2 linked regions of the Homo sapiens genome follow. The gene in region 1 interacts genetically with each later gene. Each region holds a gene or a part of one and is shown on either strand. Other genes may lie near its edges.

Evidence for each region.
Region 2: of SRF (region 1) and ATG7, changing one enhances a phenotype caused by changing the other (phenotypic enhancement), as found in Homo sapiens cells (one large-scale study listed by BioGRID).

What each region holds. Positions count from the first base shown.
Region 1 is NC_000006.12:43,174,081-43,177,894, forward strand, and holds part of SRF (serum response factor), read left to right. Parts: coding exon 1-33; intron 34-1,625; coding exon 1,626-1,887; intron 1,888-2,467; coding exon 2,468-2,587; intron 2,588-3,814. UniProt on the Homo sapiens protein: SRF is a transcription factor that binds to the serum response element (SRE), a short sequence of dyad symmetry located 300 bp to the 5' of the site of transcription initiation of some genes (such as FOS).
Region 2 is NC_000003.12:11,362,628-11,366,441, forward strand, and holds part of ATG7 (ubiquitin-like modifier-activating enzyme ATG7), read left to right. Parts: intron 1-185; coding exon 186-301; intron 302-2,031; coding exon 2,032-2,107; intron 2,108-3,814. UniProt on the Homo sapiens protein: E1-like activating enzyme involved in the 2 ubiquitin-like systems required for cytoplasm to vacuole transport (Cvt) and autophagy.

The sequences.
Region 1 (3,814 bases):
GTGTCGGAGTCTGACAGCAGTGGGGAGACCAAGGTGTGTTTGGGTTGCCTATGTGAGAGGAGGGAAGGGAGTGGGGTCCCTCTCCCTTTCTGGCCCAGGACAGGTGGATAGGTGCCCACCGATGTGGAGTGGAGCCGGATTAACGACCCTCGTCCTAGGGGACAGGTGTCCATCCTCACTTTCCTGATAGAAGACCGCCCCCCTAGATAAGCGGGCGGCCTCCGTGCCCATATAAGGCCGGCTTGGGCTCCACGCCGGCCTCCCGCCCGCAGCCCGCCTGCCTGGCAGGGCCTTTGCATTCCTCCCGCCAGCTGTCTCCCCGCTAGGGGCGGGGGTGTAGTTTAGCCCGGCCCTCCGGGCTGGGTCGCCAGGGAGTAGAAAGGGAGCACTCCGGTCCCGGGGTCCTGGGAATCCAGCACTCTTGGCAGGCGGGCTGGTTGACTGGGCCGGGGACTACCTTACAAGCCAGCCGCTGCCCTTTCAGGGTGTTGGGGGCCTGGGCAGTTAGGGAGCGCATTTGCCTGCTGCTAGGGATGCCTGCGCTGTTACTCCTCCCCCTTCCTTTTCCCGGTAAGGAGAGGGGGTGGGGCTTCCTCCCTTGCTGTCTGGGGAGCTCCACCTTCCGGGTGGCACTTAACTGACTGGCCAATGGGAGGAAGCGGCACTGTTTGCCTTAGCAACGCCTCTGCCAATCAAGGGTCTTGGGCCCAGCTGCTTTGCAAACGTCTCGTGCTGACCCACCCCGCAGCCTTTGAGCCTCTGGTTGACTCATTTCGGGTCTGGGCTTGGTGGCTTGGTTCTCAGTTTCCTTCTTCCCCTTCTAAGAACGAAGTCTTCCTTAGGGGAGAGTCAGTGCTGTAGGCTACCTCCTCTCTTAGTGGCATATCATCTGTAATAATTTTTAAACTTTTATAACAGTAGGGCTCATTTATTCCCAGGAAATTTTGTTGGATGAGTACATTCTTTTGGTAGTTTACATCTTGGGTGTTTGACATATAGTGTGTCATTGCCAGATTCTCAAGATCTCTCTCAAACTCTTAAGTTCCCTGAGAAACTCAGTTCCTATCTCAGAAGCCTGACAAATTAGAGCTGGAAGAACTCTTTGAAAGAAAACGTAGTAGCCCAGCCCCCTCATGCTTATAGAAGAGGAAAACCGAGGTTCAGAAAAGGGGACTGGTTATTTCAGGGTCACTTAGATGGTCATTACCAGAGCTAGGAACAGACCTTGGTGTCCTGACTCCCCAGCCAATGGGATTACCACAGTCCGCTGGAGCAGAGAACTCAGGGGATTATAATAATGACAATGATAATAATTATCATAAGAGCAGCAAATATTTATTTTGGTTTTTTTATGTGCCAGGTAGTGTTTTCTAAGTGATTTACATATGCTAACCTACTTAATCCTTACAGCAACCTAGGGGGTAGGTATTATCCTCCTTTTACCGATAGAAAACTGTAGCTCAGTAGATCAATAACTTACCTAAGAGTCAGGCATCAGGTAAATGGTGGCGTTGGGATTTGAACCCAAGCTCACTGGTTTCAGTCTGGGTTCTCAGTCCACACAAAGCTTCTGCAAAGGCAGGATCTGGTAGGGGCTCATTGCTTCATCTTTACTCTGGGTATAGGACACACTGAAGCCGGCGTTCACAGTCACCAACCTGCCGGGTACAACCTCCACCATCCAAACAGCACCTAGCACCTCTACCACCATGCAAGTCAGCAGCGGCCCCTCCTTTCCCATCACCAACTACCTGGCACCAGTGTCTGCTAGTGTCAGCCCCAGTGCTGTCAGCAGTGCCAATGGGACTGTGCTGAAGAGTACAGGCAGCGGCCCTGTCTCCTCTGGGGGCCTTATGCAGCTGCCTACCAGCTTCACCCTCATGCCTGGTGAGTCACGAGGGGCAGGGAGAGATTCGTCCTTCCTGGGGCAAATCAAGCATGCTAAGAGTGTGTTTAGGGCTGGCACCAAGAGAACCTCTTTCCCTGCTCAGAAGGAAGGTGAATAGGGGCCAGAGCCTGAGCGAAGCCTCTTATATCCCGTTGGCAGGCATACCTCTGCCCACTGAGACCCCTGCTGTCCTTGTCAGTAAGTTTCAACCATATATTCTGGCCCTGTCTAGCTACCCCAGCCCCGTGCCCTCATTGCCACAGGGCAGTAGATGTTTCACCACTTCCTGCCTTGACTGGAAGGCAGATCATGTCTTTGATGGGTTATTGCCAGCTCTTGGGTCAACTGAAGAAAAGAGAGACAAGGCCCAGGGCAGGAGGAGGAGGGATGGGCAAGAGTAGAGCGTGGAAGCCCCCAGAGTGGATACTTGGGCCTGAAGGGCCTCTTTGGCTTCCAGGAAAGATAGTGATGGGAGTTGGAGACCAGTGTGCCAGACCCTGGGACTGGGGTGTCCATGGGTACTTGGTGGAGGTGGCAATTGGGTGGGACAGAGCACAAATAAGACTCTGTGTCTTGCAGGTGGGGCAGTGGCCCAGCAGGTCCCAGTGCAGGCCATTCAAGTGCACCAGGCCCCACAGCAAGCGTCTCCCTCCCGTGACAGCAGCACAGACCTCACGCAGACCTCCTCCAGCGGGACAGGTATAGCTCGCAGCCCTGTCACCCTCCCTCCCTGCCTTCCCCCACGAGGCCTAGCAGTAGGTGCCCAACAGTAACCCTCCTGTAACTAAAGTCAGGGGATTTCTTAAAGTGGAGATTGAGGCTTTGGGCCTAATAATTATGGGGAAGTCAGGTGAGGATGACTGGGTTTTGAATCCCGCCCTGCAGTGGGCTGCGGATTCCAGAAGAAAATTGGGGACCATTGACCTACCTCCTCATTCAGATGAGGAGCCTGAGGCCTAGAAATAAGAAGTTACTTGCTCAAAGACACATTTGCTTAATTATCAGGAAGGACTTAGAGAGCAATTTTCTCTTTGTGCGAGGGTCTTACAGGTTTTGAGTAGCCACAGTTACCCTCAGGTATCTCTAGACATTTCAGAAATGATGAGATACTCTCAAAGTAAGGTTAATTTTAAGTTCTTATTATTTATAACCTTTTTACTCAAAGTGTGGCCTATGGACTGGGAACACCAGCATTACCTGGGAGCTTGTTGGAAATACAGAATCTTGAGTCTCACCCCAAACCTAGTGAATCGGAGTCTGTTTTTTTTTTTTTTTTTGAGACGGAGTCTCGCTCTCTGTCGCCCAGGCTGGAGTGCAGTGGCACCATCTCGGCTCACTGCAAGCTCTGCCTCCCGGGTTCACGCTATTCTCCTGCCTCAGCCTCCCGAGTAGCTGGGACTACAGGTGCCCGCCACCACACCTGGCTAATTTTTTTGTATTTTTAGTAGAGACGGGGTTTCACCTTGTTAGCCAGGATGGTCTCGATCTCCTGACCTCGTGATCCGCCCACCTCGGCCTCTCAAAGTGCTGGGATTACAGGCCTGAGCCACCGCACCCGGCCCAGAGTCTGTGTTTTAACAAGATTCCCATATAATGCACGTTAACATTTGAGAAGTGCTTGTTTGAAAGATGAATTTGTTAGCTGTGCATTAAGAAGGAGAGAGAGGCCGGGTGCGGTGGCTCACGTCTGTAATCCCAGCGCTTTGGGAGGCCGAGGGGGGCAGATCACGAGGTCAGGAGATTGAGATCATCCTGGCTAACACGGTGAAACTCCATCTCTACTAAAAATTCAAAAAATTAGCCGGGCTTGATGGCAGGCATCTGTAGTCCCAGCTACTCGGGAGGCTGAGGCAGGAGAATGGCATGAGCCCAGGAGGCGGAGCTTGCAGTGAGCCAAGATCGCGCCACTGCACCCCAGCCTGGGTG
Region 2 (3,814 bases), on another chromosome or scaffold:
TAAATTGTATATTTTGTTTATCTTGATAATCTCAAGAAATGATGTACTTGAGGCTGGATGTTCTTTGCCAACAATGAGCATCTGGTTATAATTTAAAGCTTTGTCACAGAGGATTTCATACTTGAGACAGCTAGAGTTGAATGGAGTAGAACGTTCTGCACACACCAATGATTGTTTCTTTGCAGTCAACCAGAGACCGGACCTTGGACCAGCAGTGCACTGTGAGTCGTCCAGGACTGGCCGTGATTGCAGGAGCCCTGGCCGTGGAATTGATGGTATCTGTTTTGCAGCATCCAGAAGGGTGAGTTTGCTAGTAGGAGATGAGTATTTAAACAAAGCTTTTGTAGGCAGTTGTTCATCAGTGTCTCCCATGGCCTTTTCTCAGTCTGACTTTACAGAGAATTTCACTATTTCACCCTCAAAAAAACAAGACTAGAAAAAGCAGGTCTGGTTCTTTGGGCTGAGATAACTTGGCATGTTTCCTTTGTGGCCACATTTCTGCATCTTTCCGGACAAAGTCACTATGGTTTATTTTATTTTTCCAACGCTTATATAGGGCTTACTTTGTGCTAGGCACTGTTCTAAGCACCTTAGAAATTTTGCCTCCTTCAATCTTTTTTTTTTTTTTTAACGAGACGGAATTTCGCTCTTGTTGCCCAGGCTGGAGTGTAATGGCACGATTTTGGCTCACTGCAACCTCTGCCTTCTAGGTTCAAGTGATTCTCCTGCCTCAGCCTCCCAAGTAGCTGGAATTACAGGCATACGCCACCATGCCCGGCTGATTTTTGTATTTTTAGTAGAGATGGGGTTTTGCCATGTTGGTCAGGCTAGTCTTGAACCTCTGACCTCAGTGATCAGAAGTGATTCACCCACCTTATCCTCCCAAAGTGTTGGGATTACAGGCGTGAGCCATTGCACCCGGCCTCCTTTAATCTTCATAGCAAACATATTAGGAAAGAACTATTATTATTAGTCGCAGTTTTGATGGGGAAATCAAGGCATAGTGAGGATAAGTAAGTGGCCAAATTTACATAGTAAATGGAAAAGCCAGGGTTTAGCTCAACCAGTGTGGCTCCAGACTATGTTTAATGACTTTGTTATGCTGTTTGCAATACAGGCAGCAGAAAATCGAATTTTTGAAAGATTTATTTTTCCAGTTCTCAGAAAGTCAATATGCAAATTAACATGAATATTCTATTTCTTGTGTGACTCAAAGCTTTCCTCAGCAGTTGAAAATTGTGGTTGTATATGTAACTAGTATGGGTACTCTGAGATAAATGAAAAGCGGGGCTTTTTTGTCTTCCTCTTTGTCATCCACCTTAGCTATCTGTCATTTAAGTTTATTGCCACTCTCTGACAGGAAGTATTTGGGATAAAATCTTTGAGAGCTGACTTTATGCTTCCTTGACACTGAGCCTCTGTCTGCCACATTTGCCCTGGTCATAGTTTAAACACCAGGTCCTGTGTCACATCTTTTTGGTGCCACAAGTATCACTCCATTGTTCAGAGAGTAGTGTATTAGTTCTGCCCAATTCATTCTTCACTTTTATTTCTTCCATTTCATTAGCATTTATATCAGCTCAAGAAGTTAAGGTTAGAAAATTTTCCACTTCAAATTTTCAGTACAGAAATGTGCTGTGATGTTTGACAAGACTATTTCATAGTAAGTGAGTTAATGTTTATTGGCCTCTGATATGCCGAACATTGCACTCGGCAGTTGATGTAGTAGATTCCTCATTTATTAATCAGAGCTCCCTCATTCCTACTTTATAGATGATGGATCTGAAGCACAGAAAAGTTAAGCAACTTGCCTATGGTCACAAGCTCAGGTCTTTCTGACTCCAAACCATGCATGTTTAAATTACTCTTCTTGCCCTTTGTCCCAGGGAAATTAGTTTTTTGCTAACTTACACTGCCCAGCAAGGGGCATTTTAGTTATCCTTATGAATCTTATGTAGATTTCTGCTAGATCATCCTCCCATGTGTTAAACTTGGATTAAATGAGCAGCTCTGATTGTTTCCTGTCCTCAGGGGCTATGCCATTGCCAGCAGCAGTGACGATCGGATGAATGAGCCTCCAACCTCTCTTGGGCTTGTGCCTCACCAGGTTAGTGATGTGGAAGTGAAATCACAATTCTTTTGGTACAGGGGGAAAGCATGTGGGGTCTCTTTGCCATTCCATCTGCCCAGCCCACTTCATATCCACCCTACTTACCCTGCAGCTGGGATTTCAATGGGAGAGCTTTCTGACCACCTGGAAGGTATTCCATTCTGCGGGATAGTGATGGGAGGAAATCACGAACGAGAAGCATTGCCCAGAGTCTTTGATGCGTTTTGTAAACTGACTAGAGGCCTCATAATGCAATAGGAACAGAAAAAACAGGCTTTGGAATCAGTCATACAATGGTTTAAATCCCAGCCCTGCCGTTATAAAGATGGCCTTCTTTGGCCAAGTCACTAAACTTCTCTGAGGCTTAGTTTTCTTATCTGTAACATAGAGAAGGTAATGCTGACATCACCTGGTAGTTGTATGGATTATGGATGGTTGCTAGAAAGGGCTCAGCAACAGTGTATATCATAGGCCCTCAACAAACAATGCCTGCTGTTTCTTTACTGTTGCTTGTTATTATTATTGACTCTGAACCCAAATAGAAAACCTTTATAGGCAGGCATGAGAAAAACATTAGAAGCATGCAGGGTCACCAAAAAGTGGGGTGTCTTTTCAGAAAAAGAATCCAAAGCATCATGAGGAAGTTCCATCCCTTAGGGAGTAAAAAGAAAAAGGCAGTGGGATGATCTTTTAGAATTCATGTTGCCTCTTCAGTCATTTTCATTACTATATTTTTGGGAGATTGAAGAGGTTTTCCAGTCTTATTTGGAAATCATTTTTTTTTAGATTCCATGTATGTATCCTCTCCTGTAATGTGACTGCTGTTCCCATCAGTGAAATCGTGATGGTGCCCACCAGTCCTATCTGGTGATTTGCAAGGACAGACTCAGACGAGTGCAGAGAGCAGAGTGACTCAGCTCATGCTTGTCTCTCTCTTCCTCCTCGCCACCCACCTTCTGCCAGCTAGGGCGGCACTGTCATATTCAGTTTAGGATGAGAATCAGAAGAGGGGAAACGACTTCTTCATGGTCACAGAGACTTAGTGGATGAGCCACAATCCATACCTAAACTTGGCAGTCTGACAAATGTTCTTTCAAAGGTCTTGTGAGTTGAAAGATCCGTGGCCTGCATGTTGGGAGATTTTGCTTCCTGTTGGTACCCCAGCCCCCTTGCACAAAACCACCCATAATAGAACTTGTGGGCCGGGCGCGGTGACTCATGCCTGTAATTCCAGCACTTTGGGAGGCCGAGGCGGGTGGATCACGAGGAGAGGAGTTTGAGACCAGCCTGACCAACATGGTGAAACCCCGTCTCTACTAAAAATACAAAAATTAGCTGAGCGTGATAGTGTGCACCTGTAATCCCAGCTACTCAGGAGGCTGAGGCAGGAGAATCGCTTGAACCCGGGAGGTGGAGGGTTGCAGTGAGCTAAGATCGCGCCATTGCACTGTGGCCTGGGCGACAGAGTGAGACTCCATCTCAAAAAAAAAAAAAAAAAAAATAGAACTTGTAGAGTTCACTTAGCCTCCCAGAGTCTCAGTTTCCAAATCAAGAAAAGCAGGTGCTTTACTTTGTGTCCAGGATTACATCTGACACGGCCTTGAAAACCACAAAACACTATGAAAATGTGCCCCCCTCTGTCCCCCACACACAAGGTGGCATTTTTTTTTGACATGCATGTGTTAATCTTTTCTACAGAGACAT